2 separate regions of the Homo sapiens genome follow, and region 2 is linked to region 1. The links come from fine-mapping of genetic effects on gene expression. A gene starts in region 1. The other region holds a variant in brackets. All regions are shown on one strand. Distances are between the middles of the regions.

The links. PIP is the estimated chance that this variant, and not a neighbour inherited with it, causes the effect.
Region 2: its variant is the best candidate, but not a certain one, in a credible set for the expression of SWT1 in whole blood (INTERVAL, PIP 0.82).

The regions. Positions count from the first base shown.
Region 1 is chr1:185,155,790-185,158,701 of GRCh38, reverse strand. SWT1 (SWT1 RNA endoribonuclease homolog) reads right to left here and starts at 1,535. Exons shown (of 19, transcript NM_017673.7): 1 at 1,388-1,535. It overlaps TRMT1L (tRNA methyltransferase 1L), which reads left to right and starts at 1,749. Exons shown (of 15, transcript NM_030934.5): 1 at 1,749-2,224. The coding sequence starts at 1,990. RefSeq lists silencers at 1,143-1,262, 2,003-2,252 and enhancers at 1,803-1,912, 1,756-2,661.
Region 2 is chr1:185,182,698-185,185,609 of GRCh38, reverse strand. It overlaps SWT1 (SWT1 RNA endoribonuclease homolog), which reads right to left. Exons shown (of 19, transcript NM_017673.7): 8 at 1,266-1,367; 9 at 679-867. Among named protein-coding and RNA genes, the nearest start is that of SWT1, 27 kb to the right of the region's middle. The variant C/AC (reference allele first, on the strand shown) is at 1,197.

The DNA of each region.
Region 1 (2,912 bases):
CTTACAAGCACAGACCATGCTTAGAAATTCTTACAAAAATTCCCACAGAATCCAGACACTAAAATCTGACCCTTTTAATCTGGTTTCCAGCTGGTGTTAAATGACATTAACATACTGAATCTAGCTTTCAGTTAACCATCTAGTCATTTAGAAATAAAAAATCATCATGAACGACAGTAAAAAAAAAAAAAAGAAATGAGAACAAGAATTATTGGATGATGCACAGATATAGTTAGCATTTCTGTAAGTTATAGTCAGTGTTATCCCATTTTTAATTGACTGTTGAGCCATGAGTCAACTACACATTCAGGAATACTAGATAAAAGCTGTACGGGACGATCAGTAAAAGGGATTTAGGACTATAACTCACAGAAGCTCCACAGGGATAATCTGTTCCCATTAAACTGGGGAGAGGTTAAACACACACACACACCCCTCCAGATATATACTTCTTAACTATAGGGGGAGGAGTTAATTTCCAGTTAGTGCTTCAAAGTGCCAAATAATCATGCTATCTCTTCCCCGGGGTTCTGAAACAAGTAGGAAACAAATAGACCAAGAAGATTGGCGTTTATCAACTTAATTAACTAAGAAAAGCTAACTGGAAGCGCGCGTCTTGTTCTTGAGACTAAATTGGGCTTCCCTCTCCTGCCCTGATGCCTAGAAGGTTCGGACCAAGCCCAAGCAGGGCAGCCAGAAAGTTCACGTTTTTCTCCTTTCTGTCCCAGTGGATTTATCGCGGGGGGACAGAAGAAAGAAACAAGAAAGGCTCGAATGTCAAGTAGGCACTAAGAGTGAAGGGGAGAGAAGTACGGGGGACAGGGGACTCGCTAGCATATGTTTTGGGGATCTGAAACGCATCAAAATTAAATGCCCCGAAGCTCTACCCACTCAGAGCTCTGGTTATTAAAAGCCTGAAAACAAAGCAAAATAGAGCAAAACAACTAATTTCTATCCACTGGCCACACCGCAGAACTGCTGATACTGGCAACATGAAGACTAAAGCAAAAATAAAAACAAAGGAAAAGAGTGTTCGGGTCACGGTGTAGGTGAGGGTGCGAAATGAAGAACAGACCCTAATTCCAAGTCAGCTGGATGGACAGGCAAGCTCGTCAGCTGCTAGTAAACCGCCGCGGGCCCGCGGGCTCCGCACGAACCGACCAGACCCCAACACCGGGCAAGGGGCAGCCCCGGAGGCAAGCCGGGCCAGAACCACACCCTCCACGGAGCTGGCTCGTCCCCGGACCCGCCCACAGAGTCGCCCCGCCCAGGTCCGTGTGACTCCTGAGTCCCCAGTCCGGCCGGCCGCCCGCCCGCCAGTATACTTGGGGCGGGGGACGAGGGGGAACCTGCCCAGCAAAACGTCAACGCACCCCGCAGTTCCTACCTTACCAGCGCCGGCGGCAGTGGCAACTCCGGAGCCCCAAGCCAAAGGAGAGGGACCCCCGCCTCCCAACACACACACACACCCCGCCCCACCAACTGTATGCCTGCTGGGAAACGTAGTTCTGCGCCCGCATCCGCACTACCTACTCACCGCCCCACAGCGCTCGCTTAGATTTGCATTTACTTCCTCCGAGGCTTGAACTCCGGCCCCGCCCCCAGACTGCGCAGTGTATCCTGGGTGCTGTAGTCTTTGTTCGGTTTGGTGGTTGGCCGGTGGGCCGGAGACGCACCGTAGAAACCGAACCCTCTTACCCAATTGGACGCCGTCCCCAGTACGCTTCTGCGCAGTTTGTGGTGGCGTCGTAACGCCTCGGGGAAAGGGAAGCGGACGGGCATCTGGAATCGCTGCCTCTGGCTTTCTGTTTTCTACTAACAGGATTTGGTCACTGGTTCTTCATCTTTTGTCTGTTGCACGCATCCCGCCCTCCCCACTTGCTTCCCCACTCCTTGGATCCAGCCCTGTGGGCATTCACGTCAGTTCTCTGACCCCGCCGTGAGCCCCGCTCCGGGTCCCCGGGCGGGCTTGGCACGGAGGCGGTAACTATGGAGAATATGGCGGAGGAGGAGCTGCTGCCCCTGGAGAAGGAGGAGGTGGAGGTGGCCCAGGTCCAGGTCCCGACCCCGGCCCGGGACTCGGCTGGGGTCCCAGCTCCGGCCCCGGATTCGGCTCTGGACTCGGCTCCGACTCCGGCCTCGGCTCCAGCCCCAGCCCCTGCCCTGGCCCAGGCTCCGGCCCTGTCCCCGTCCCTAGCCTCTGCCCCTGAGGAGGCTAAAAGCAGTAAGTGCAGAAGGCCCAGATCTTTCTGCTGCAGAAGAGAGAAAGTGCGCCTTGCTGGGAAGTAGGGGAGGCCCTTCACCGGGATGGTTTTTATGGGGCAAGGCAGGTTTAGGAAAATGGTGGGGAGGAAAGAGGGGCCCGTGTAGCGGCTAAAGCAGGGTTACAGAATGGGAGACGGCATCTTCATAAGCCTCGAGGATGTCACGGTGAGGGATATGCGGAGAGCAGGAATGCTGCAGATAGAAGGAAATAATGAGGTTAAGGGCTTTTTCTTAAAAGGGAGTCTTTTTAAGGTACAAAAATAGGAAGTTACACATAATTTGGTAGTTTCCCGCAGTCCAGTCTGCCATGGTTAACTAAGTTCTTTCAAATGTGACATAGTAACCGAGGCAACCTGTTTACGGTAGTAGATCCTAGCTGCCAACATTTCTAAACCATTACTGTCAACTAGCTTTTCTGCTTCGACAGCCACAAGGAGATGAGTTTTTCTCATTTCAGTTTTCTTTTCCCCCGCTAGCAGCTTGCCTCCGAAAAGATTTTGAGGCTGAGTAGTAGTTTAGGAAAGAGTCGACTAAATTTACGGATGTTTTCCCCCATACATAAATACCAATTGAGTTTTGTACTCCATTCCATCAGAAATAGACTGTTGAGAATTAATGGCCCATATTATTGTGCTTCTGAATGTGCC
Region 2 (2,912 bases), 27 kb before region 1:
AAGCTTACATATATAAATAATTCTGAGCTGGGAAGAAACAAATTCTGAAAGAATGAAATAAATCTTCTAAATATATATGTATAAACTCCACAGAAATAAGTGTTCCTTTATATATAGATATTTTTCCAGCAAATTATATAAAACATAAAGAACATCCTTAGCTTCTAAGACTAAAGCAATTTTTTAAATGCCTTAATAGAAACTAATATTGAAAAAAATTAAATGAGGGGAAAATCTATACACTACTTTATTGTAAAAACACCTCATTCATTATTACCGATTCTGACAAACCACAGGAAAGCAACATCGTCTCCACAGTACATTAACTGCATATGGTGATATTAACAGACTAGAAACCTAGATCACTTACAGACTTCATCACTCAGCAATGGTATTTTTAAAAAAGGAGTCCAAGGTTCTGGGATATAGATAATTATGCATACACAACTATACAGTCACTATCTGTGAAATATAGACATAATGTAAAAACGTCTAGGAGAAGCAGAAAAATAAAAGTCAAAGACTCCTAAACTAAGCCACAAACCATCACAATGCCCCTTCCATTTCACATTCCAATGGGTTTAAATGTTTTAAAAGTTTTGCACCATTTCCCTCCAATAATGAGTCTGCACCCAAACAAGTATTAATCAGGAGGCACTCTGAGAGAACAATACTTACAATGTTTTTGGGATGCAAGTTGTATTGACTGACCCCATAGCTTTCTATCTTGATTTTTGAGACTGTCGTTGATGAAATGAACTGCAGGTATAGCTTTGTGCTGGGCACGTTTTAGTAGTTTTCCTTCCTTCATACGATCTAGCTCTTGCATAACGACCCAGGGAATTATTAACACAAGTTTGTCAAAACCTAAAAAATAAAAAGATTTCTTAGAATTTAACAAACATTTATTGAGCTACTAAATGGAATTGCTGTCCAAGAGGTAAAAGTTTTAAAGCACACAGTCCCTACCTTTAGGAAATTCACAATAAATTGAGAGACAATATATTATAAAATGGAAATTAAAAAGAAAATAACGTGTCAAAAGAATGTTAAAAAAATAATTACTCTTGGAGATCAAAAAAAGAGTGAGTTCAGATTGCTAGTTTAACCTGTAAAGGCTTTTATAAACTTATAACACTGAATATGCTTAATATATAGCATATCTAAATGGAGACATGTTCATGGCAAAAAAAGCC[C/AC]ATCATTGTTAATATAAAATATCAACTCAAGGAAGAAAATCAGAATCTTTAAATATGTTCTGTAAATACCTGGTACTTCTGTTGTCTTCAAAATTCTAACAAATTTGAGATGATTCATCAGAATATTTGTGTCAATAACAATTAGAAGCTTTCTGTCTGAAGTATTATTTGCTAAAGAAAAAGAGCAAATATTTCATGACACTTGATAACAGACTTATATAATGACTAAAATTTTGATATTACAGAAGCATTGAAAATTCAATTAAATTTAAAACGCCTCTTTGTCTTGTTAACTGTATCAGAGATTTACACAGTTGGCTAGACTCTCAAGCTGATATCTATCCGGCCCGTATCCTTGTTGCCAAGTAAATTTCTCCCCAATCAATTAAGGTCCTCTGGATAGGAATTGCAACCCCTGTTTGGAGTGGGAGTGGGGTGGAGAATCGTCTAAGTCAAAGTGGGCAGAGAAGGTAAGGGTTGGCAAAGCAGAAATACACGGGAAACCTGGGGCCAAGACTGTGAAAAACCAGCCATGGAGAATGTTTTTGAGAGCATTCTTAAGAGAAGTCCTTTAGACAATAAAAACAAAATTGCTTTTACTTCGATTCTTAAGAGAAAGAATAGTAATCAATGTTTAATCACCCACCAGTAGAATACTATAAATTGCTTGTAGGTGGATTTTAAATTATGAACTGACTTGCCTGGGGAGTAATTATGTTTCTAACTTCTGTCATGGATCACCGGTAGTTGTGCACTTAGTAATTATAAGCTAATTTTAACATATCCTGAGTGAATATAATTGAAAGATGAATATGTGTAAAAGAAAATACATGCTGGGCTTGGTGGCTCACGCCTGTAATCCCAGCACTTTGAGAGGCCGAGGCGGGCCAATCACCTGAGGTCAGGAGTTCGAGATCAGCCTGGCCAACACAGTGGAACTCCAGCTCTACTAAAAATTAGCCAGGCATGGTGGCACACGCCTGTAGTCCCAGCTACTCAGGAGGCTGAGGCAGGAGAATTGCTTGAACCTGGGAGGCACAGGTTGCAGTGAGTGGAGATAGCTCCAATTCCAGCCTGGATGACAGAAGGACACTCCGTCTCAAAAAAACAAAAACAAAAGAAAAACCCACAAACAAACAAAAAAAGAAAAAACATAATAATTCTAGCATTGTTATTGCATAGGACCATTTTGAGGATCAGATAATACATAGGAAAACACTTGAAAGATGAAAACTGCAATGTGAATGTAAGGTAGCATTACTTTTTTTTTTTTTTTGAGATGGATTTTTGCTCTTGTTGCCCAGACTGGAATGCAGTGGCTCAATCTTGGCTCACTGCAACCTCTGCTTCCCAGGTTCAAGCCATTCTCCTGCCTCAGCCTCCTGAGTAGCTGGGAATACAGGCATGGGCCACCATGCCCAGCTAATTTTTCGTATTTTTAGTAGAGATGGGGTTTCACTATGTTGGCCAGACTGGTCTCGAACTCCTGACCCCAGGTGATCCACCCTCCTTGGCCTCCCAAAGTGCTGGGATTACAGGCGTGAGCCACCGTGCCCGGTCAGCATTGCCATTTTTAAAAATGGAATTTGAAACAGTACACTGATAGATTTTGGATAATCTCTATCATTATCTTCTCCCAGTAGCAAAAAAAATGATCAAAATTTCACAACATGAATAAGAAATCAATAAATATAATACCTTCAAGCAATCTGCATT